7 linked regions of the Homo sapiens genome follow. The protein of the gene in region 6 interacts with the protein of the main gene of each other region in a biochemical or structural test. Each region holds a gene or a part of one and is shown on either strand. Other genes may lie near its edges. The genes, in order: MAST3, PPP1R9A, TJP1, MAST4, RGS12, CYSLTR2 and PREX2.

The links.
Region 1: the proteins of CYSLTR2 (region 6) and MAST3 interact in a test that uses a peptide from one of them, tested with the Homo sapiens proteins (one large-scale study listed by IntAct).
Region 2: the proteins of CYSLTR2 (region 6) and PPP1R9A interact in a test that uses a peptide from one of them, tested with the Homo sapiens proteins (one large-scale study listed by IntAct).
Region 3: the proteins of CYSLTR2 (region 6) and TJP1 interact in a test that uses a peptide from one of them, tested with the Homo sapiens proteins (one large-scale study listed by IntAct).
Region 4: the proteins of CYSLTR2 (region 6) and MAST4 interact in a test that uses a peptide from one of them, tested with the Homo sapiens proteins (one large-scale study listed by IntAct).
Region 5: the proteins of CYSLTR2 (region 6) and RGS12 interact in a test that uses a peptide from one of them, tested with the Homo sapiens proteins (one large-scale study listed by IntAct).
Region 7: the proteins of CYSLTR2 (region 6) and PREX2 interact in a test that uses a peptide from one of them, tested with the Homo sapiens proteins (one large-scale study listed by IntAct).

The regions. Positions count from the first base shown.
Region 1 is NC_000019.10:18,100,778-18,104,277, reverse strand, and holds part of MAST3 (microtubule-associated serine/threonine-protein kinase 3), read right to left. Parts: intron 1-3,500.
Region 2 is NC_000007.14:94,914,094-94,917,593, reverse strand, and holds part of PPP1R9A (neurabin-1), read right to left. Parts: intron 1-3,500. UniProt on the Homo sapiens protein: Binds to actin filaments (F-actin) and shows cross-linking activity. Binds along the sides of the F-actin. May be involved in neurite formation. Inhibits protein phosphatase 1-alpha activity.
Region 3 is NC_000015.10:29,812,469-29,815,968, reverse strand, and holds part of TJP1 (tight junction protein 1), read left to right. Parts: intron 1-3,500. UniProt on the Homo sapiens protein: TJP1, TJP2, and TJP3 are closely related scaffolding proteins that link tight junction (TJ) transmembrane proteins such as claudins, junctional adhesion molecules, and occludin to the actin cytoskeleton.
Region 4 is NC_000005.10:67,159,393-67,162,892, reverse strand, and holds part of MAST4 (microtubule-associated serine/threonine-protein kinase 4), read right to left. Parts: intron 2,438-3,500; coding exon 2,301-2,437; intron 287-2,300; coding exon 105-286; intron 1-104.
Region 5 is NC_000004.12:3,438,217-3,440,413, forward strand, and holds the end of RGS12 (regulator of G-protein signaling 12), read left to right. Parts: intron 1-1,238; coding exon 1,239-1,468; 3' UTR 1,469-1,697; downstream 1,698-2,197. UniProt on the Homo sapiens protein: Regulates G protein-coupled receptor signaling cascades. Inhibits signal transduction by increasing the GTPase activity of G protein alpha subunits, thereby driving them into their inactive GDP-bound form.
Region 6 is NC_000013.11:48,705,929-48,708,827, forward strand, and holds part of CYSLTR2 (cysteinyl leukotriene receptor 2), read left to right. Parts: intron 1-888; 5' UTR 889-889; coding exon 890-1,930; 3' UTR 1,931-2,899. UniProt on the Homo sapiens protein: Receptor for cysteinyl leukotrienes. The response is mediated via a G-protein that activates a phosphatidylinositol-calcium second messenger system.
Region 7 is NC_000008.11:68,116,046-68,119,545, reverse strand, and holds part of PREX2 (phosphatidylinositol 3,4,5-trisphosphate-dependent Rac exchanger 2 protein), read right to left. Parts: intron 997-3,500; coding exon 902-996; intron 115-901; coding exon 32-114; intron 1-31. UniProt on the Homo sapiens protein: Functions as a RAC1 guanine nucleotide exchange factor (GEF), activating Rac proteins by exchanging bound GDP for free GTP.

The sequences.
Region 1 (3,500 bases), on a different chromosome or scaffold from region 6:
CACCACCATCACCGTGGCCATTAGGGTCTCCTTCTTCCCCTTCCAATAGTTGTGGGAATTTTTTTTTTTTTTTTTTTTTTTTTTTTTTTTTTTTTTTTGAGACAGCGTCTGGCTATGTCGCCCAGACTGGAATGCAGTGGTGCAATCTTGGCTCACTGCAACCTCCGCCTCCAGAGTAGCTGGGATTGTGGGCATGTGCCACCACACCCGGCTAATTTTTGTATTTTTTATAGAGATGAGGTTTCACCATGTTGCCCAGGCTGGTCTTGAACTCCTGGTCTCAAGTGATCCACCTGCCTTGGCCTCCCAAAGTGCTGGGATTACAGGCATGAGCCACTGCACCCAGCCAGTTGTGGGATCTTATACCACTTCCTCCACTACCCCACGTGAAACAGGGAGGGATTTGAACCCTGGTGGGGGGTCCCACTTGCACCCCATCCAGGCATTTCCTTCCAAAACTCTGACAGTCCTAGGTTCCCAGTCTGGCTCCCCCACTCCTGCACTGTGTGACCCGACAAGTGACTTAACCCCTCTGTGCCTCAGTTTTCTCATTTGGAAAATGGCCCAGTGACATAGGGTCCCTGGAGGAATCAATGAGTAGCAAGCTCAGAGCCTGGTGCTGGGGGAGACTTGGATGGATGGGAGTCAAGACAATGATCAAGACGTGAATAATAACCACCAGTTGAAAGTTGCTTCCAAAAGACAAAAAGATGTGAATATTTTGTTTGTTTGTTTGTTTTCAGATGGAGACTTGCTCTGTCGCCCAGGCTGGAGGGCAATGGTGCGATCTTGTCTCACTGCAACCTCCACCTCCTGGGTTCAAGCGATTCTTCTGCCTCAGCCTCCCAAGTAAGCTGGGATTACAGGCGCCCACCACCACGCTTGGCTGATTTTGTATTTTTAGTAGAGATAGGATTTCACCATGTTGGTCTGGCTGGTCTTGACCTCCTGACCTCAAGCAGTCCTCCCATCTCGGCCTCCCAAAACGCTGGATTACAGGCATGAGCCACTGTGCCTGGCCTGAAGATGTTTTTTTAAAGTGGCAGAGAGAGGTGAGGCAAAATCGGCAGCTCCCTGCAAAGGCTCCCGGGGAAGCTGGACCACACAGAACTCTCCTGGCACCACTCCCGGACCCTTCGGTCCCCGCACCATCTGCTTTCCACCCACAGCTCCCTCTGTGCCTGCTGTTCCCCTGGGAGTGGTTCCCACCCAGAGGAGTGGAGGTTGGGGAGGCCCCGACCCCCTGAAACTGCCCTTTAAAGGTAATATTTATGGTATACCCGTCTGCGCTTGCCCAGGCTGGGGGATGCTGCCTCCCCAACAAGCTTTAGCCCCACCTTGAGGAAATCCCATTTTGGAGAAGACATAGCACAGCAGGAGCACCCCCATACTGGAGGGATTAAGAGAGACCCGAAGCAGCTGGGTGCTGTGGCTCATGCCTGTAATCCCAGCACTTTGGGAGGCTGAGGCGGGAGGATCACTTAAGATCAAGAGTTTGAGCCAGGTGCGGTGGCTCACGCCTGTAATCCCAGCACGCTGGGAGGCCAAGGTGGGCGGATCACAAGGTCAGGAGTTCAAGATCAGCCTGGCCAACATAGTGAAACCCCGTCTCTACTTAAAATACAAAAATTAGCTGGATGTGGTGGCAGGCGCCTGTAGTCCCAGCTACTCGGTAGGCCGAGGCAGGAGAATCCCTTGAACCCCGGAGGCGGAGGTTGCAGTGAGCCAAGACCACACCATTGTACTCCAGCCTGGGTGACAGAATGAGACTCCGTCTCAAAAAAAAAAAAAAAAAAGGTGGCCGGGCGCAGTGGCTCATGCCTGTAATCCCAGGACTTTGGGAGGCTGAGGCAGGCAGATCACCTGAGGTCAGGAGTTCGAGACCAGCCTGACCAACATGGAGAAACCCCGTCTCTACTAAAAATACAAAATTAGCAGGATGTGGTGGCGCATGCCTGTAATCCCAGCTACCTGGGAGGCTGAGGCAGGAGAATCGCTTGAACTCGGGGGCAGAGGTTGCGGTGAGCCGAGATCGTGCCATTGCACTCCAGCCTGGGCAAGAAGAGCGAAAGAGTGAAACTCCGTTTCAAAAAAAAAAGGCCAGGCGCAGTGGCTAACACCTGTAATCTCAGCACTTTGAGAGGCCGAGGTGGGAGGATCACGAAGTCAGCAGATGGAGACCATCCTGGCTAACACGGTGAAAGCCCGTCTCTGCTAAAAATACAAAAAATTAGCCGGGTGTGGTGGCAGGAGCCTGTAGTCCCAGCTACTCGGGAGGCTGAGGCAGGAGAATGGCATGAACCTGGGAGGTGGAATGAGCGGAGATCACGCCACTGCACTCCAGCCTGGGCGACAGAGCAAGACTCCGTCTCAAAAAAAAAAAAAAAAAAAAAAAGAGTTTGAGGCCATTCTGGCCAACATGGTGAAACACCATCTCTACTAAAAAATATAAAAATTATATTAGTCGGGTGTGGTGGCGCTCGCCTGTAATCCAGCTACTCAGGAGGCTGAGGCTGTGAGAATCGCTTGTATCCAGGTGACGGAGCCTGCAGTGAGCCAAGATGGCGCCACTGCACTCCAGCCTGGGCCACCGCACTCCAGCCTGGGCGACAGGGCAAGATCCTGTCTAAAAAAAGAGAGACTCAAAGGGAGAAGAGGGGTTGGAGGCACACAGAGAGGAGAGCTAAGGGGCTTCCTGGAGTAGGGGGTGTCAAACAAAGCCTGCAGGCACATGGAAAACACCAGTCCATGCCCAGCAAACAGCACGTGCAAAGGGAGGTGAGACTCAGCCTGCTGGGCACCAAGCCCGGTTGGAAGTTCGATGCCCCTGGAATTAAATGGGAGAGAAGTCAGCATGGACCACATGGCACCAGCCCCAGGGCTTCCAGGAGGAGGAGGAGGAGGAGGAGAAGGAGAAGGAGGAGGAGGAGGAGGAGGAGGAAAATAAGTGGAAGCTGTCCATGAGAAAGCAGGATCACCTTGGAGGGCTGAACCTAGAGGAGCCACCCCAGTAGCGGCAGAGACAAAAGTCCAGATACAGGCTCTAGCCCTTCTCTGCCGGGGGATGCTCTGTTTGTGGGACCTGGTGTTTTGAAATTCGGTCATGTGTAAAGCAAAGGTCCAAGTAGGAGATGATAAATGTAATAAGATAATAGTAGTAGTAGTAATAACAGCTCACGTTACCCGGTGCCTGCACACGTTATGCGTGAGGCTGAGTTTAACCCAAATTGGGAAGGTCTCCACCTCCTCCCTGGACCCAGGGCTGTCGCAAACTGGCCGCCCGCGGGCCAGGCCGGATCCTTTTTCAGACCTTTCCTGCACACAGCCAACAGCACGCCTCACATTGTCACCACCGGAGAGGACGCCCTGGGCTATGCGTCTGGATTGGCCGGTCAGCACCCGTTTGTGAATGGACTCTTTGGCCTTTGGCCTCCAGGAAATCTGATTGGCTCGCATCAGCGATCTACCCCCTGATTGGCTGGGGTGCTCCTGGACCATTA
Region 2 (3,500 bases), on a different chromosome or scaffold from region 6:
TCTACAAAAAAAAAAAAAATAATAACAGGCATGGTGGCGCTTGCCTGTAGTCCTAGCTGCATGGGAGGCTGAGGCAGGAGAATTACTTGTGCCCCAGAGGTCAGGGCTGCAGTGAGCCATGACTGCATCACTGCACTACAGCCAGGGTGACAGAGCAAGACCTTGTCTCAAAAAAAATTAATTAAATTAACAAAAAACAAGAAACTTTAAATATTTCTATTACAAATAAATACCAGTAAACATCTGAAATAATCTGCTGTCAAAAGAATCCCTTTTTAAACACTAAATGATCACTGTTCAGTTTAAAAGTATAGCTATACCTCTGGATTTTAGAAAAGGGGTTCATTCAACAAATCTTCATTATTTGATTTTACAAAGTATATTAAAATATTTGACATATTTCATTTACCTGGTTATGAAGCATAGGTCATAAAACATAAAAATTTAAAAGGAAATCCAATTTAAATGTTATACCATCGGCTGGGCACAGTGGTTCACGCCTATAATCTCAGCACTTTGGGAGGCCAACGCGGTCAGATCACTTGAGGTCAGGAGTTCGAGACTAGCCTGGCCAACATGGTAAAAACCCTGTCTCTACTAAAAATATAAAAATTAGTCTGGAATAGTTGTGCATGCCTGTTGTCCCAGCTACTCAGAGGGCTGAGGCCTGAGAATCTCTTGAACCCAGGAGGTGGAGGTTTCAGTGAGCTGAGATCGTGCCACTGCACTCCAACCTGGGTGACAGAGCAAAGCTCCCTCTCAAAAAACAAAAAACAAAAAACAAACAAAAAAAAAGTTGTACCATCAAAGTTATCCAAGAAAAGCAAGTTAAATCATATGACCATTCTTATACTAAGTTTATTAATTTACACTTGCAAAAGAATGAAAGAAATGAAATTTCTGATTCCATTAAAAACTTCTTCCTCCCAACTTTTTATAACTAAAAACTTAAACCACACAAAGAGCCTAGGATGTGACTTTTTAATGACCCAAATGCCTTGAGTTAAGGATAATAATCCACTTTGGGATCCAGAAACAGAGTATTCATGCACTTTACAAGATTATACCTTATTTCATCTTCAGAGAATATTATTCCACCCAACCAGATATAGCAGCCCATCTGGAAAGGAAATTTATTACATGTTGCTTCCCTAACATGCTATGGCCAGCCACTTTCAGAAGCCAGAAGATTGTACTTCAAATTCATATTCCAAAGAGTGATCTCTTGATCAGCGGCATCGGCACCACTTGAGAGCTTGTTAGAAATGTAAAATCTAAGGTTCCCCTCCAGACATACTGTTAACGTGGTTTTCCTGTATTATTTCAGAATATGAAATTCTATTATAGAGGTAAACAAAACTAATGGGATGGATGAAACACTTAAGAAGTGATAATCATAGATGGTAAATAAACTAACAACTTATGAGACAGAGGCAACACTCAGGCTGGGCCAAGTATTGATAATGAGAATGCAAGCTGGTGAAATGAAGGCAGTCAGCAGATGCGTAATAAATAGGTAAGCTGGGAGTAAGACATGACAACAATAAAATAAATAGAAATTATGATAAAATGAATGAGATTTACTTATAGACAAAAAGCAGTGGAAATACCAAGTCACCATTATGCCTGGACTGATAGCTACATTACTTCCATATCAGTCATCTACTGAAGACACCAAGGATGGTCCCATGGCTCATCAGCAGGCAAACTAGCAAAGCTACGGCTGTACCTAAGTGTATTTGTCACATCTCTTCAACAGAACAAGTGTGTATCATCGACCCAGGAAATCATTAGTCTATGGAGTCTTGGCTCAAACATCAGCTCTGGTCCTCATAACCACATCATTAATGGGGAAGGGTTATGTGAAAGAAAGATGGGACATAGGAACATTGTTTATCCAGGACAGGTAGCGTGGTCCTTCCAACCTGGTTTGAACCTGAAGTGTGTTAACTTACTCCATAGCTTTCCTCTTGCTTCTGGATTTGTGTTTAACTGGTTTGGTAAATCATGTGATTCAAGCATTTTAATTTGTTTTCTGAGTCTTCTATTCCATAACCTCTGAGATAGCTTGCCTGCTGGTGTACTTGTAGCTCAACCATTGTATCAAGGTAATTTCCCATAGAATACCTACTGAATCAGAATCTTGATGCTAACAAGATCTCCCAAGTGATTCATATGCATATTAAAGTTTAAGAAGCACTGACAAAACTGTTATAAAGGAAGCCTCCGCAAAGACAAAAAGTTGGATCTCAACAGAACTATTCCCTGAAAACCATCCTGAACAAAAAAACTTCATATATCCATGAATGCCCTAACTATGACTCGGAGCCCCCAAAAAGGGAGAGAATACAAGAAGATCCATTTTCAACAACTATCATGTAAGGTTTGAAGAAGCTCTGGTGCCCTTGCTGATTATTTGAATTCTAATCCTGTAAAGCTCCATATGATTTGAGAAAACACAAAATATAGCACAATGTACCTCAATATTAACTCTGCAATATCCTTCTTACTGTGAGTTAGAAAAATCTTTTTCAGATATGCTGTTTCAAGAATAACAATCCATTGTAACACAATAGTATTTGAGGGGAAAAAAAAATACCAATCCAAAGGACATAAGAAACAGAGAAAGGTTGTGACTTCCTTAATGAGGCTGCAGCAACCTTAGAAAGATCATCAAAGCACAGAGTTGGGAACAGCCTGAGAGCTTCCTTAATGGGCTGTACACGTCCCACCGACCAGCAGCTCCTTACTTCATCAGCTCCTCATTTTATGTATTTGTTGTATTTGTTATATTTGCATTGTCCCTGACACATATTAGGGGCTCCATAAATGTTCTGAATTAGTAGAAAAAAATGACATGTCACCCTCTCTTGTTTTGATTCATCTAAGACAAATTTACTTTAATTCAATCCTTTCATTTTGAAAAATTCCTGAAAATGAAGGCATAATTCCATCTCGAATTAGCATGGTCCATAACATTCTCCCATGCCATATCTCAAAGTTGGATTTTAATTTGCTATTATTAATCCCATTCTAATATTTCATGACCCTATGAAACATAACAATCTATCTAATAAGAAATAACTGTCTGTGAAAGATAGGAAAGTCATACTAACTGATGGCTGGCAATACAGTCTGACCATTTTTAAAAATCAAGGTATATGTACAAGTACAAGGTATATGCTACACAGGAAAGATCAACTATTATTCTGATGTTTTTCTAAGTCCAGATTTAAGACATCTTATGGAAATATCTATGTAAAACATCTATAAAAAGAACTGAAGTAGTCACTGAGGACAATATTACACATACAAAGATGATAAATAAGATCTATAACAAAAAACTAAAGGTGCTAGGAATTTTTAACCTAGTACAGAATAAAGTGACAGCCAGGAAAAGAATGTAAAAGTTCTAAAAATCATTTATTTAAAGAATACATTCCCTGTTGCTTCTTTAAGAGGAAGTATGTTTAAGCTTCAAAGGAAAAGACTGAGGTTAG
Region 3 (3,500 bases), on a different chromosome or scaffold from region 6:
GGGCTGTAACGCAGTATATGTAGTACTGCTTCCCGTTTGATTTGAAGGAAAAAAAGTACAGTAGTTCCACTCCCTTTTTCCCCTCCAATCCTGGAAACAAGGTCTGGCTCTGACTTTTACTTGCTCTTTAATCTCTTTTCTGTTTAGAGACCAAATGTAAACTCTGTACAGTTCTAAGAATAAAACTGTGTATAAATATGATAGATCACCATGCTGCTAAGGAAAATGTCTTTAAAAATAATAGTTTTGGTGGAAAATTTGAAGACGTAATCCTGTTACTTGACATACCCCTGATATGATAAAAATTCACCTTACTGAAAGACCATGAGTCCAGCTGTAAATTCATGTGTAGTGCCACCCATCTGTGACTGCTCAGTCATTGCTCATTTCAGGCCTGCCTGAAAGCATTCACGTGCTCAGCATTGTGTATGACTGAGCATTATAGTAGCTGAAGACAAGCTAGTGGAATGAGCCAGTCATTTCTAATTAGCAAAGTTTTGATATGTTAAATAAAAAGATAGTTTATGTCTAGAATGATCCTCCTGGAATATTTGACTGGAACTTGCTTTGCACCTCTGAATTTTGAAAGCAAATCTTGAAAAACCTTTTTACTTTAACAACTTTTAGTCTTGTAGAAAGAAATAGACATTAGGATAGTTTACAGATTTTAAAGTTAATCCTATAAAATTGGTGTGTTGCAGTATTTCTTGCATAAGCCAGCAATAAAAATAAGACTTTTGCTCTCTCTGACCTAGAGTGCATCTTTATTTATTTATTGCAGAGAAGAGTGGCTTCAGGTTGCTCCTTTATGGGCTAGCCAGGTGCTTTATTTCCATTCCTCTTAAACAGATAAATTCTTAATAATGAGCAGTATGTGGGGAATACGTGGGTAGGGAGTTTTATCTTATATCCTAAGCATGGATGAAAATAAATGGACTCTGAATGATTGCCTTTACCACAAGAACACAGCTTTAGATCATGAGAACACCAATGTTACCAAACTTTGTACTGTAAAACACCATTTGAAATGTGATAACAAAACCCTGTCATATATGTAGTGCTCAATACTGAATCTCAGGTGGCCCTCACTTTGGGATAGATCAAGAGATAAGGTTTTATTAGTTTGTGTTGCGGATATATTTCAGTTGATATACTGAAAATACTGGGAAGTGAGTTAACTGGTGAATGATCTCAATTCTAGTTTATCATGTCCGGAAAGGAGGTAAAACAGAAGCTGATATTACTTTCTGTGGATTCTAATTAGGAACATAAGATTAGCGTATACCTGGTTTAATTAATTTTTTTTGACTTACCGAAATATTTTTTCCTTTTTAAAAAAATGTAAATTCCCAAAGACTGAAAAGTTCATTTTTCTTCTTGGTTATCTTAGGAATTTTCACGCTTTTGGAATTGTCATTATCTTGGAGATTGTACAACAGTTTCTGGTAACTGAATATCACCAGTTAAACTTAATATAAGATTAGCTCACTTAATTTAGTATGTAATTTTAAAATTCAGGAGGATACCAGTAATGACTAATTCTTTTTGTTAGCTTAACACATATTAAATGAGTACATTTTGTTTGGGATCCCGATCCTAGAAATTTACAGTTTTCAACTGCTATACGCTGTAATGATCACTTTGTGAATTGTGTAACTCATTGTTGAAGAAACAAAGGATTTGCATTGTTTACTCTTAAAAATACGAGCAAACTTATGGTCATCCTGTAATAACAGAGCATTCTTGTGTGCTTTCTTCGTTGGAGGAGGTGACAAAGTCATTTTCTAAACCTGGGCTTGCTGTTTAGCAGAGTTTCTGTATTTTTCCTTGTTAATGTTTTTAAATGTTTGAATTGAATCTGGATACATTGATGTAAGTGTTTTCTGCATATGTTTGGTATCAATATCTCAATAGGAGGGAGACATTAAGAATTATAAAGTAATTGGCTTATATGCTTAACAGCTCCTTGAATATACTGACAAGGCAAATGAACACTATACTAGCTGTTACTGTTACATTTAGGGTTCAAGAAGCTGTGAAATATGTAACAATTTGGATTCCTAAAGCGGAATTTTACATTCAGCAGATATTTGTTGGTTACCTCGTGTGTACCAATCACTGTTGTAGGTGCTGGAGATGCAGCAGTGAACACATCTCTGTACTGATAGGGCATTTTAATGGTGCGGGTAGAGAGCAGCAAATAAAATTCTGTCCATAATGATAAGTGCTAGAATCCCTAACATGCCTTTTCTGGGTCATATCCTCCCTTCTTCAAAGATTGCATGTATCTTGTCTTCTAGGTTTCTCATTTTCTAGTTTTTCTTTATAGTTACCACCTAATTATGCATTCTGAAAGCACTAGTTTTGACTCTCTGAACTTTGCGCATACAGAATCTTCTAGTGTGAATTCTGTTGTATATGGCTTCTTTTGCTCAGCATTATGTTTGTAAGATTATGTTGTGGAGAACTGTAGCTCATTAGTTTTCATTCAGTTCTTGTACTTCATGGTATTCCATTGTATGAGGACTTTATTGGTTTCGGGAGAAAATAGTTTCAGTTAGACTTCTGTGGCTTTTTGGAGAAAAATATTGTATATGTCTGTCTGAGGGGCAAGAATTAGATATGCATTATGAGGCAGTCATTGGAGTACCAACAGCTGAGCAAAAGGTAGTAAGCTTCTTTTGGTGTTCCTATGATTATCTTGAAAAATCAAGTTGGTCTTAGTTTGGAGGATATTTTATGACTAAGATGTTTGTCATACTAAAGTATGTTTTAGTAGTAAGTATTGAAGTATGTTTTAGTAGTAAGATATCCACTTACCTGACTGATCAGACCACCAAAAGCCACAATCAGGGGAAATACATGAATCTGGCAAAAATGAGTCTGCCTTTCAAAATATAATTGTGGAAGTTTTTCCTGGTAATGTCATATAAAGGTACTAAGGAAGGTTTATTTACTGATTTTTTTTTTCTAACAGTGGCAGTTATTGGAGTATTAATACTTACTGGAGTGTTAATACAGAAGTACACTATTTTGATGCTGTATCACCTATAAAAATCAAGTCAGTAGCCATGGCAAGTAGGCTTACATTTTAGTTATAAGTGTGAGAAATATGTGTCAAAACAAACAGTAGCCCCTTATATTGCATGCTGACTCTGTGACAGATACTGAGCTAAGTGTTTTATGTGCATTATCCCATTTAATCTTCACAATTCTGTTAGATACTACGATTATCTCTGTTTTTACAGGTGAAGGATCTGAGGTTAAATTTACTTGCCATAGGTAATCATACATCTACTTACATGTTCTATAAGTCATACATTCACATCCTTTTATGTTCGTGTGTTGTAAGAGAGCACCAGGGAGAAGAGTATGGGATGGTGTTAGGTAAGTCTTAGACCAGAAAAGCAGCATGAATCATGAAAGCCAGAAGAGAGGGCACTGCTCCATCAGAGCACAAGCCAGTTTGTCTAAAGGAAGCAGCTCTTGCTCAGCCCCAG
Region 4 (3,500 bases), on a different chromosome or scaffold from region 6:
TCAACCTGCTTTCTTTCAGCTGGAACAAGCTTCATGTTTTTTGGGGACCTCACATGACTTTACCTCCCCTCCCCTCTGCTGTTTAGACCAGGAGACTCACTCACCAGATGGGAAGTCAGGGGTGGAGCGGTAGCTTGGTGTTGGAGACCGGGGAGACAAGCTATGAGTGGGGGAACCTGGGAGGCTCTCACCCGATGACAGGGATCTGTTCAAGCAGGAGAAACTTCGGCTGGTGTGGAGTAAAGGAGAAGGCTGCTTGGCTAGCTTTTTGAAAAGAGATCTCCTCCTACAGAAAAACAGGAAAAAATTGTTCAGTCTTCTTTCAGAACTATTGCTGCCTCCCCAAAATACCATTGTGCTCAGCTCAATAACTCCGTGTGAGGGACAGGGATACAACAGCAGATCCTATTAAAGAGCAGAACACCACTTTCCTATTAGAAACCTTCTTATGACATGTAAAGGAAGAGTATTTAATAGTAGACAATGGAGCCTCTCTCAATTCCAAACACTTAAGAAGAGTTGGAAAAATAGGAAAAATATAAAATGCATTAAAAATACATTCATTTACTTGTTAGGTATATGAGGAGGATGCTCTTTGCTTGAAAGCTTCTGAGTACCTACCCCTAAATATGCAGACACAACTTAACTAAGAGATAATACAAAGTAAACCTCTGGAAGCAAAACCATTGTATTGGAAATCAAATTCTTTAATGGTGATAGGCTGGGCAGAGGCCAATGAAGGGCTATTTGCTGTGCTTATTCCATTGTGGGCTCTTGAATATTCCTAACAACAATGCAGGCTGTACAACGACATAGAAAAAACCGAGAAAGGTGAAGCTGAAGCGTATCGTATCAGCAGGGCAGCAGACACTGTACTGCAGCAGAAGCAAATGTGGATTTGGTACTCAATGAGCACATCTTAAGGCAAAAGCACAGCTTCTGACACCTTAGCAGGGCATCGGGCTGTGCAAAGTTCTTTTACCATATAAGCCTATATATGGTAAGATCTAACCCACTCCACATAAGCTTAAAACAAAGTTTCTGGTTGCTAGCCCTTGAAACAATTTGTTCTAAATGATTTAAAGCACAGCCAAAATATAAAGCATAATAATAAAGAAGATCTTATGTGTGTGTAATTTTAATCAGAGTAATAAATGTACTTGGGTGAAAAAGTCAAATACTTCTATAAACATACAATGAAAAACAGCAACTCCTCTACTCGAATTTTTCTCTACTCCCCAAAGAAGTCGCTTTGTATTCTTTTACCTGTTTCTTCTCCCATTTGTCTACATATTGCTAAATGTTTGTACACTGCTATTTTTTAGTTTTTCAGTTTTAGAAATTACCTGTTGATTTTCTACTATGAAAGATGATAATTAAGCTCTTATACAACCACCTTCTACCTTGCAACCAAATATATTTCCCCTTTTCTATTCTTCCCAATATAGCGAAAGCAAAATTTTTGGTTAGAAAAACGGCCGGTATTTTATCTTATATTATAAATATTGTTCACAGCTGGGCCATATGAAACATAATTCTGTTCCTTTCTTGTATAACTTTTTTTCCCCCCAGAGTTAATACATGGCTTTTCGTTTGCTTGTTTTTCTACATTTCTATCATCAAAAATCCTTTTAATATGATGTGACTCATCAGGCCCAATTGAGTAAAGAAATGCTGTGGCATTGCAAAGGAGGCACACCCAGAGAGCTGCCTGGCAAGAAACAGCCCTGCCAGAAACACATACCTCTTGCTAGTGTCTGCAAGCAGCACAAAAAGATACTGATCAGTGCTTCCCAGGCTACAAAAGTATATAAGCTAGTTCGTTTTTCAGTGAGTAAAACAAAGCCCTTTTATTTCTAGGCTTATTCGGAACCTTTAAAGGTAACAGTAATTTTAGAATATCTGGCATTTTAAAAATAGCAACTGTTTGTTTTTTGATAACGTAAAGGACATTTTAAATGTAGATTTAATGTTAAAAACCACCTGAAGATCCAGTTCCTCAATCCAACTCAACTGAAATCAAGTGAAGAGGCTTAAAAAACAGCAAAGGGCTTTTCCTGACATTCACACATGATAAAAAACAATCTGAATCCTTCCACAATGTAAATATGTAAATCCTTTTACTATGGAAGTTGATGCTATTATGAATATGGATTTTAATGTATACATATATGTGAACCATAACATAAAATTTCTCACAGAAAAATAGATCTTCTTCATATATAAGCATTTAATTAAGGGGTAACTTTTCCCCAACATAGGTATACACCAAACTTAAAAAGAATACTGATTTTACTAACCTTTCGAGACTTTCTTTCTTCTTGGATTTCTTGCTCCGCCTCACCATCCGGCTCTTATAGCTGTTTCTCCTGGCTGGTCCAGTTTTGATTGATGTGTTTTCAAATGGGGTAGTAGTGATTGACACCTTATTCCCACTCTAAAGAAAAGATGAGGTGGCATTAAAGGGAAATGCTGTGATGAAGCAAGATCAGAACAGAGATGAGAGATTCATAGACAAATACAAATAGAAAGGAACATACATATAAAAGGCCTTCTGTTTCTAAATAACCCTTCAATCAAAGAAGTCCTGCCAGAATACAAACTGGGTGGAAGGCAAAATATGAAGTTTCTTTACGAGGGTGAGTTCTGGAGTCCACAGATCTGAGTTCAAATCCAAGCACTGTGCCCTTACCAGGCTGCTACCCTCCCTACCCTCAACTTCCTGTACCAATTAACAATATAATCCTACCTATCTCCTGGGGCTCATTTGAGGATCACATGAGAGCAAGTCTGTAAAGCCTTTTGCACCCAGTGCAACACAAGGAAAGAACACTATAAATAAGATAACTACTTCTTCCACAGGTATTAAGTATTAATGTTCCCAGTGGCTGGCTGCTCTTGGTTGATTTTTCTTTTTTCTCCTTTTTGTGTTTTTCCTTTGGCCTAAAAATTGTAGAGTAACAAAACCGAATGAGACTTTTATTTTTAATTATTTTAAAAGGCTCCTTTTCTATCACCATAAAACCTATCAGTTTGCAGAGCTGGAACATTTATGCCAGCCAGTAGGAAACCTCTTTTTAACCAGGTCATACAGGGTAAGGTAATTTCTGTGAGTTTCGGTGTCCTTTCTCTCAATCCTGGGAAGGGGCTTGCTGGGCAGCCTCTAGGGATGGAACTGAGCGTGGAGTCAGCAGTCAGGCCGAGGGGGGCCCAGGGCAGGTGGGTAGTCCCTGGCATCAATTACCCTTCCTGAATTTCATAATAACCAGGGGAGAAACCTGTCCTTTCAAGGTCACAGATGGCCCCGATTACCATGAAAGTACAAGAGGTACAAGGAAAAGGATCTTTTTAAAGGCCCATGCCTGGAAGATACCTAGAGCTCAGCTCAACATGGTACCAAGTGAAGGGGAGTTGGGGGGAGTTAGGTATGGTGGCAGCAGAGGACTGAAAAGACAGGGAATGACTGTCTTAAAGATAGCATCTACCTTCCCCCTTGATTT
Region 5 (2,197 bases), on a different chromosome or scaffold from region 6:
CTGGCATGGACATGACTGTCTCAGGGCCTCAGCCCCAGGCTCACTGAGGAAGGGAGCTCCTGGACCCCTGCCTAGGAGACACGCTAGGTACGCAGGAACCTGCCCCCGAAGCCTGCTCCTCTGGGTCGGCAACGTCACCCCCACCGCACAGATGGGGGGGTGGGGTCACTGGGCGGGTCGGCAACGTCACCCCCACCGTACAGATGGGGGGGTGGGGTCAGTGGGCGGGAAGGGCTGGGCTCTCCCAGCACGGGGGCTTCACTGCCCCTTCCCAGGCCCTGGGGTCCTGCCATGGAGCTCCGGGCGGCACATGAACCCAGCCATTCTGCGTGCACCGTTCACTTTCCTTGGCCCCAGCCTTCGTTGGCCCCTGGGGACTCCACCCTGGCATAGACACAACTGTGTCTTCCAGGGGTCCACGTGGAGGTCACCAGATGTGGCAGGGCAGTGACGCCCTGGGTAGGGAGGCCTCCCGGGGGTGCTGGCAAGGAGATGGCCTGCCCATGTTGGGTCTAGAAGCTTCCAAGGCCGGTTCAGGCAGCCGGGATCTCCTGGGGCTGGAGTGGGCATTGGAGCCAGAAGTGGGGCAAGAGTCACTGACCAGCCGGAAAGAGGGGCCTCAGTAGGGGGGCCAGGGATGGAGGGGGAGGGGACACGACCGGGAGGCCCAGAGCAGGGTGTGTACGGTGAAGACGGTGCTGAGGCAGCGAGGCAGGTGGGCGAGCAGGTGGCCAGCCTGGCAGGGTGGGATGGGGCAGCAGACACAGGGCTCAGGGCCCGTTCCACCAGGCCAAGAGGGTCCAGCCTATCTGGAACTGAACCCTAGTGCTCAGCCCCCTGGGGGTGGCCCTTGAGGATGGGCCCTGGGCCTGGGGGGGCCCCTGAGGACGCCCCCAGGAGGAATTAGGGGGGCAGTTGGGGCGGGGGCTCTGCCGGGGGCCCAGCTCTGTTCCTGAGCTGCAGTGGGGAAGCAGGGTGGTAGGGTTTCTGAGTGGGTCGGCTCCCCCACTTGGTGGCAGGTGTTATGTGGAGGGCTCTGGGAACACTGCACCTCCCCTGGGCGTACCTGCCCCAGCCTGGAGGCCCACAGCGGGACGCCAGCTGCCTCTGGGATGTGTTTGGGATATTTCAGGGACCCCTACCATGCTGTCTGTGCAGGGGCCTTCGGGGTAGGGGGTGGGTTCCGGGGGCCCAGGGCCGGGCCAGGCAAGTGACAGCTTCTCTTCTCCTTGTGACAGGAAGTGGGACCCATGGCAGCCGAGACCTCCCAGTCAACAGAATCATCGATGTGGATCTTGTAACTGGCTCGGCGCCCGGGCGGGATGGTGGCATAGCGGGGGCACAGGCTGGCCCTGGGAGGTCGCAGGCCAGTGGTGGGCCTCCTACATCAGACCTCCCTGGCTTGGGCCCCGTCCCGGGTGAGCCTGCTAAGCCCAAGACCAGCGCTCACCACGCCACCTTCGTCTGAGCTGCCCTGGCCTGGCCAACTCTCCTGTGGACATGTCGGGGTGGGGCAGCCCAGGTGGATTCTGTGGGCCTCAGGGGGGCCACCCTGGCCACCACACCCTCAGGAGCCCAGCCAGGAGGGCAGGGGGTGACCTCGCTGGAGGCACTGGCCCCGGACATTCGCCATGCTGGCCATGGGGCTCCCTGGCCCTGGCCTCCTGCTGCCCAATAAAGCATTTCTGAGGACCCAAGCGTCGGCCTGGTGCTGGGTGCTGGGGACACAGACTCCTCGTTCTCGGGGACTCCGAGCACATCCCCAGGAGGTCATGCAGGAAACAGAGGGGCCTGAGGAGGAGAAGTGCCCCAGGGTAAGGTCAAGGGGGCTTTGAGGAGAGGGAAGCTTGGCTCCTGGGGCCTGAGGGCCAGGACCAGATGGCAGAGACTGGCTCTCGCCGTCACGTGGGGACCCTGCCCCAGCCTTGTTTAGCAGGGTGGTCTGAGGGCCTTTCTGGGGAGGGACCATGTAAACTGCAACTGGACGGCAGAGGAAGTCTAGAAAGAGCCCTGGGCCTGTGCCAAGGCCCTGGGGCTAAGGAGGGTCTGATTACAGAAAGGGAACCAGGTGTGGCTGCAGGGGAGGCCGGGGCCTTGGGGGCTGGGTTGAGTCGGAAGAGGCAGGGCCATTCCCCAGGTTGCCTTGATGGAACCCCTAAAGCCAAGTACCCTCGGTACAGGGTGGTTGGTGAGCTCC
Region 6 (2,899 bases):
ATTCCTTTCTGTTTAGAGAACTTCCTTTAGTCATTCTTTGTTTGTTTGTTTTTTGTTTTGTTTTGTTGTTGTTTTTTTTTTTTTTGAGATGGAGTTTCGCTCTTGTTGCCCCAGCTGGAGTGCAATGGCATGATCTCGGCTCATTGCAACTTCTGCCTCCCAGGTTCAGGCAATTCTCCTGCCTCAGCCTCCCGGGTAGCAGAGGTGACAGGTGCCTGCCACTGGGCCCGCTAATTTTTGTATTTTTAGTAGAGACGGAGTTTCACCATGTTGGCCAGACTGGTCTTGAACTCCTGACCTCAGGTGATCTGCCAGCCTCAGCTTCCCAAACTGCTGGGATTACGGGCGTGAGCCACCAAACCCAGCCTAGTCATTCTTTTAAGATAGGTCTGCTGGCAGCAAAGTCTTAGTTTTCCGTCTGAAAAAGTCTTGATTTTTCTCTTTGTACTTGAAGGATATTTTTGCTGGACATAGAATACTAGTTTGGCAGGTCTTTTCTTTCAGCATTTGAGAAATGTGCCATTTCTTTCTGTCCTCCATAGTTTCTGATGAGAAATCTGCTATTCAGTAGTTTTAGGCTGCAATATCATAGTAAGGTATTCATGTCAACAGGGTCAGTAGGTCACAAGTTCTCTAAGTTTGAAGCGTCAGCTTCAACCAAACAAATTAATGGCTATTCTACATTCAAAAATCAGGAAATTTAAATTTATTATGAAATGTAATGCAGCATGTAGTAAAGACTTAACCAGTGTTTTAAAACTCAACTTTCAAAGAAAAGATAGTATTGCTCCCTGTTTCATTAAAACCTAGAGAGATGTAATCAGTAAGCAAGAAGGAAAAAGGGAAATTCACAAAGTAACTTTTTGTGTCTGTTTCTTTTTAACCCAGCATGGAGAGAAAATTTATGTCCTTGCAACCATCCATCTCCGTATCAGAAATGGAACCAAATGGCACCTTCAGCAATAACAACAGCAGGAACTGCACAATTGAAAACTTCAAGAGAGAATTTTTCCCAATTGTATATCTGATAATATTTTTCTGGGGAGTCTTGGGAAATGGGTTGTCCATATATGTTTTCCTGCAGCCTTATAAGAAGTCCACATCTGTGAACGTTTTCATGCTAAATCTGGCCATTTCAGATCTCCTGTTCATAAGCACGCTTCCCTTCAGGGCTGACTATTATCTTAGAGGCTCCAATTGGATATTTGGAGACCTGGCCTGCAGGATTATGTCTTATTCCTTGTATGTCAACATGTACAGCAGTATTTATTTCCTGACCGTGCTGAGTGTTGTGCGTTTCCTGGCAATGGTTCACCCCTTTCGGCTTCTGCATGTCACCAGCATCAGGAGTGCCTGGATCCTCTGTGGGATCATATGGATCCTTATCATGGCTTCCTCAATAATGCTCCTGGACAGTGGCTCTGAGCAGAACGGCAGTGTCACATCATGCTTAGAGCTGAATCTCTATAAAATTGCTAAGCTGCAGACCATGAACTATATTGCCTTGGTGGTGGGCTGCCTGCTGCCATTTTTCACACTCAGCATCTGTTATCTGCTGATCATTCGGGTTCTGTTAAAAGTGGAGGTCCCAGAATCGGGGCTGCGGGTTTCTCACAGGAAGGCACTGACCACCATCATCATCACCTTGATCATCTTCTTCTTGTGTTTCCTGCCCTATCACACACTGAGGACCGTCCACTTGACGACATGGAAAGTGGGTTTATGCAAAGACAGACTGCATAAAGCTTTGGTTATCACACTGGCCTTGGCAGCAGCCAATGCCTGCTTCAATCCTCTGCTCTATTACTTTGCTGGGGAGAATTTTAAGGACAGACTAAAGTCTGCACTCAGAAAAGGCCATCCACAGAAGGCAAAGACAAAGTGTGTTTTCCCTGTTAGTGTGTGGTTGAGAAAGGAAACAAGAGTATAAGGAGCTCTTAGATGAGACCTGTTCTTGTATCCTTGTGTCCATCTTCATTCACTCATAGTCTCCAAATGACTTTGTATTTACATCACTCCCAACAAATGTTGATTCTTAATATTTAGTTGACCATTACTTTTGTTAATAAGACCTACTTCAAAAATTTTATTCAGTGTATTTTCAGTTGTTGAGTCTTAATGAGGGATACAGGAGGAAAAATCCCTACTAGAGTCCTGTGGGCTGAAATATCAGACTGGGAAAAAATGCAAAGCACATTGGATCCTACTTTTCTTCAGATATTGAACCAGATCTCTGGCCCATCAGGCTTTCTAAATTCTTCAAAAGAGCCACAACTTCCCCAGCTTCTCCAGCTCCCCTGTCCTCTTCAATCCCTTGAGATATAGCCAACTAACGACGCTACTGGAAGCCCCAGAGCAGAAAAGAAGCACATCCTAAGATTCAGGGAAAGACTAACTGTGAAAAGGAAGGCTGTCCTATAACAAAGCAGCATCAAGTCCCAAGTAAGGACAGTGAGAGAAAAGGGGGAGAAGGATTGGAGCAAAAGAGAACTGGCAATAAGTAGGGGAAGGAAGAATTTCATTTTGCATTGGGAGAGAGGTTCTAACACACTGAAGGCAACCCTATTTCTACTGTTTCTCTCTTGCCAGGGTATTAGGAAGGACAGGAAAAGTAGGAGGAGGATCTGGGGCATTGCCCTAGGAAATGAAAGAATTGTGTATAGAATGGAAGGGGGATCATCAAGGACATGTATCTCAAATTTTCTTTGAGATGCAGGTTAGTTGACCTTGCTGCAGTTCTCCTTCCCATTAATTCATTGGGATGGAAGCCAAAAATAAAAGAGGTGCCTCTGAGGATTAGGGTTGAGCACTCAAGGGAAAGATGGAGTAGAGGGCAAATAGCAAAAGTTGTTGCACTCCTGAAATTCTATTAACATTTCCGCAGAAGATGAGTAGGGAG
Region 7 (3,500 bases), on a different chromosome or scaffold from region 6:
GAACAAAAGCCCCACAAATGCCCGATTGTACCTGGCTGAAAAGATGCTCAAGGCAACTATGTATCTTGTCCTGTTTATCATGAGATATGCGAACACTTAAGGGAAGTTCATCACCTAGATGTCAAAACAAAAACAAAACCAAAAACCAAAATCACTCATCTTATGTTTAACGTACCAAAATATTGTAATATTCAATAAAATGTAAAAATTAAACACAAGCTGTTATTCCATGCACAGTTCTCATGTTCAGAGAAAGAGTTCCAAAAGATTTCATAGCTCCTGGGATGTTACTATTTCTTCTGAAGGCGGAGTGCCTCCCAGAAAAGATACTTGTTAAAGACTCTTTCAAATGATGTTCCTCCAGTGGTTGAAGAGTTGACATAAACTGCATAATCAAAAATTAAGATTTTCCCTAATTGGAATGAAAGGTCTTTGTTCTTAACACACACAAGATAATATATTTATAAGATAATTATATCAATCTGTTTCTCTCATTACCCTCAATCCTCAACATCCACATATAAAGCTAGCTCAGGTGAACCTGCTGTCTTAAATGCTTCAAACTCCACACCTGCCCATCCCCATCAACCATGCCTAATACTTCCAGTATATTTCCTGTGTACCTATAATCCTTCATAGAACCATACAGAGATAATGGAGCATATCTGAAGATTACAATTAGTTTGCTTATTTCATTGCTTTTTAACTCACTCCCTTTAAAATGGGATTGGGAAATAGACTATCAAGCTCATAAAACTGAAATGCAGTATGTGTGGCCACAGAGAGTGACTGATAAAAGGTAAAAATAAAAATTCATATGGATCTACGAAATTAAAACCTTAAAGTTATCTCCTATAGGACTAATATCAAAAAGCCCACAGGCCTTCACCAACGAACACACCTGAGTCCATTTCATCACTGTGGAAATACGAGCTGCACTGGCTGCTGCAGATGCTGGTGAAGGAGGCGATGGAATTCCTATTGCTGTTGCAGTCACTGAAAACAACAGGTTTCATGTTACTGTAAGAGTGCATCTGCCCAGGTGTCCCTGCAATTTCTTATGACATAAACTTATATCAGTTATATTTATTAGTATGTTTTAGAGAAAACTATGAGAAAGATAAACTTGTTCAACTCAGTCTATCTTACTTTTTAAAGACGGCATATTTTCTGTCTTTTTTTTTTTTTTTGGAGACGGAGTTTCGCTCTGTCTCCCAGACTGGAGTGCAGTGGTGCGATCTCGGCTCACTGCAAGCTCCGCCTGCAGGGTTCACGCCATTCTCCTGCCTCAGCCTCCCGAGTAGCTGGGACTACAGGCGCCCGCCACCACACCAGGCTAATTTTTTGTATTTTTAGTAGAGACAGGGTTTCACCATGTTAGCCAGGATGGTCTCCATCTCCTGACCTTGTGATCCGCCCACCTCGGCCTCCCAAAGTGCTGGGATTACAGGCGTGAGCCACCACGCCCGGCCAAAGATGGCATATTTTTGATTCAATTATATTTCAAATTTTCTTGTATCATATAATCTAATCCTAAATGATTTTTTAAGGGCAGTTAGCTATAAAACTAGGAGTCATGCCAAACTTAAAATTCTTTATAATCTGTTTCATGATACATGCCAGTAATTAGATAACTTGCTAATAGAGACAAAATACTGTTCTGTGATTTCTGTCCCTTTCTGGTGGCTTAAATCATAACTTATTGGTTACACTCTGAGCTTCCTTAGGGAGGACAGGAAACTTGTCTGTCTCCACCTCAGAGCTTTTAGCACAGGGAAGTGCTTGATAATGATGAATGCCCAAGGAAAGAAAGGTTCAATATGTTTGTGTGTGAACAGGGACAAATTTCAGAAATAGTGCAGGAGATAAAGTATTTTCTTTCCTCTCAGAATAAGTAAAAAGGACGTCCTTAACTTTAAATTTACATTTAAAATTTCTATCTTAGCCTAGAGGGAAACTGTCAGGGTAATTTTAATTATCTGATAACTAGAACTTGAGGTAAGAAAGTATTTTTAGACATGTAATTTCCCACTGGGAAAAACTCTACAGATTCCTATTAAAGAGCAGGTTGGGATGCTTAGAAGTGAAAAGTAAATGAAGTGATAAAAGTGGTTAATCTGTCTGATCTATTATTAAATCTCTAGAATAATTCTTATGTGTTCATTAAGATCCTTTTTGGAAACATAGAAATTGGAATAGTAGAGTGGTTAAGAGACAAACTGGGAAGCCAGACCACCTGGTCTCATAGGTAAATGATATCAGCCCTCTGGGCTTCAGCTTCCTGATATGTAAAATGGAATTCCTATCAGAACCTGCCACCGAGGCTTGCGGTGAGGATTATGTAAAATCTTCCTCTTTCCCCCATGTGTTTGATAAAAGTATATTTTTAATGTTAGCTCCTAGTTTGTAGCTAGTTATACTCTGATGAGAACTTTGATTACTATTTAATCAATATCTTTTCATTGCAAAACACTGCATAATAAATGAGTGAAGAAGATAGTTTCTGCTTTCAATTAATATAAATGAAAAATATGTTGAAGTTGTATACACAGCTTATGTGGCTGGTTATGACAGTCCTCAGTGAGGTATCAGGTGATACATGGATTCAAGGAACAAAAAGTAGTTTGAATTAAGGAAGTTCACGTGAGGAGACATCATTTGGAAGTCTAGTAGGAAGACAATAACAGAGTTTGGAGGGAAAGTATTTTGGGTTGAACTAGGTCTCCCAATAAAATTCATATGTTTGAAAAGTGATCCCTAGTACCTCAGAATGTGACTTTATTTGGAGATAGGGTCTTTACAAAGGTAATCAAGTTAAAATGAGGTCATTAGGGCGTGACCTTAAGCCACCCTATAAAATGTCCTCATAAGAAGGGAAACTTTGGACACAAGACACATATGGAGGGAAGATGACGTGCAGAGACACAGGGAGAAGATGGCCGTTTACGCGTCAAGGAGCCACGCCTGGCACGGATCCTTCCTCCACAGCCTTCAGAAGGAGCCAACACAGCCCACACCTTGGTTTCAGATTTTTGGCCTCCAGAACTGTGTGATAATAAATTTCTGTTTTTTAAGCTGCCCAGTTTGTAGTAATCTGTTACAGCAGCCCTACAAAACTAATACAGAAGGTATCCAAGAGAGTAAAAACCACAAGCCTTGTCTCCGAGGTAGGCAAGGAACATTAGTCCAATTAGGTTGGAACATAGACAATGAAAAGAAAAGAGAGAAAAAAGAGCCAAAAGAACTCCTATTCACTACCCAATAAACCAGTGACAGAAACAGATAGTTGAAAACAATGTTAATCCTGTATAGGCACAATTTTCTTACCAGCTATCTGTGTTACACAATCCATATACAGAACAACTCTCCCAAATTAGGCTCACACAACCAGCGAAAAAATGCTTTTTCCAAGCTACTCATATTAGAAAAGGGAAGGATTTGAAATATTACATTGTCCCACTATGCTTTGTCTGAGGTCGGTAGTAACAGGTGATTATTGT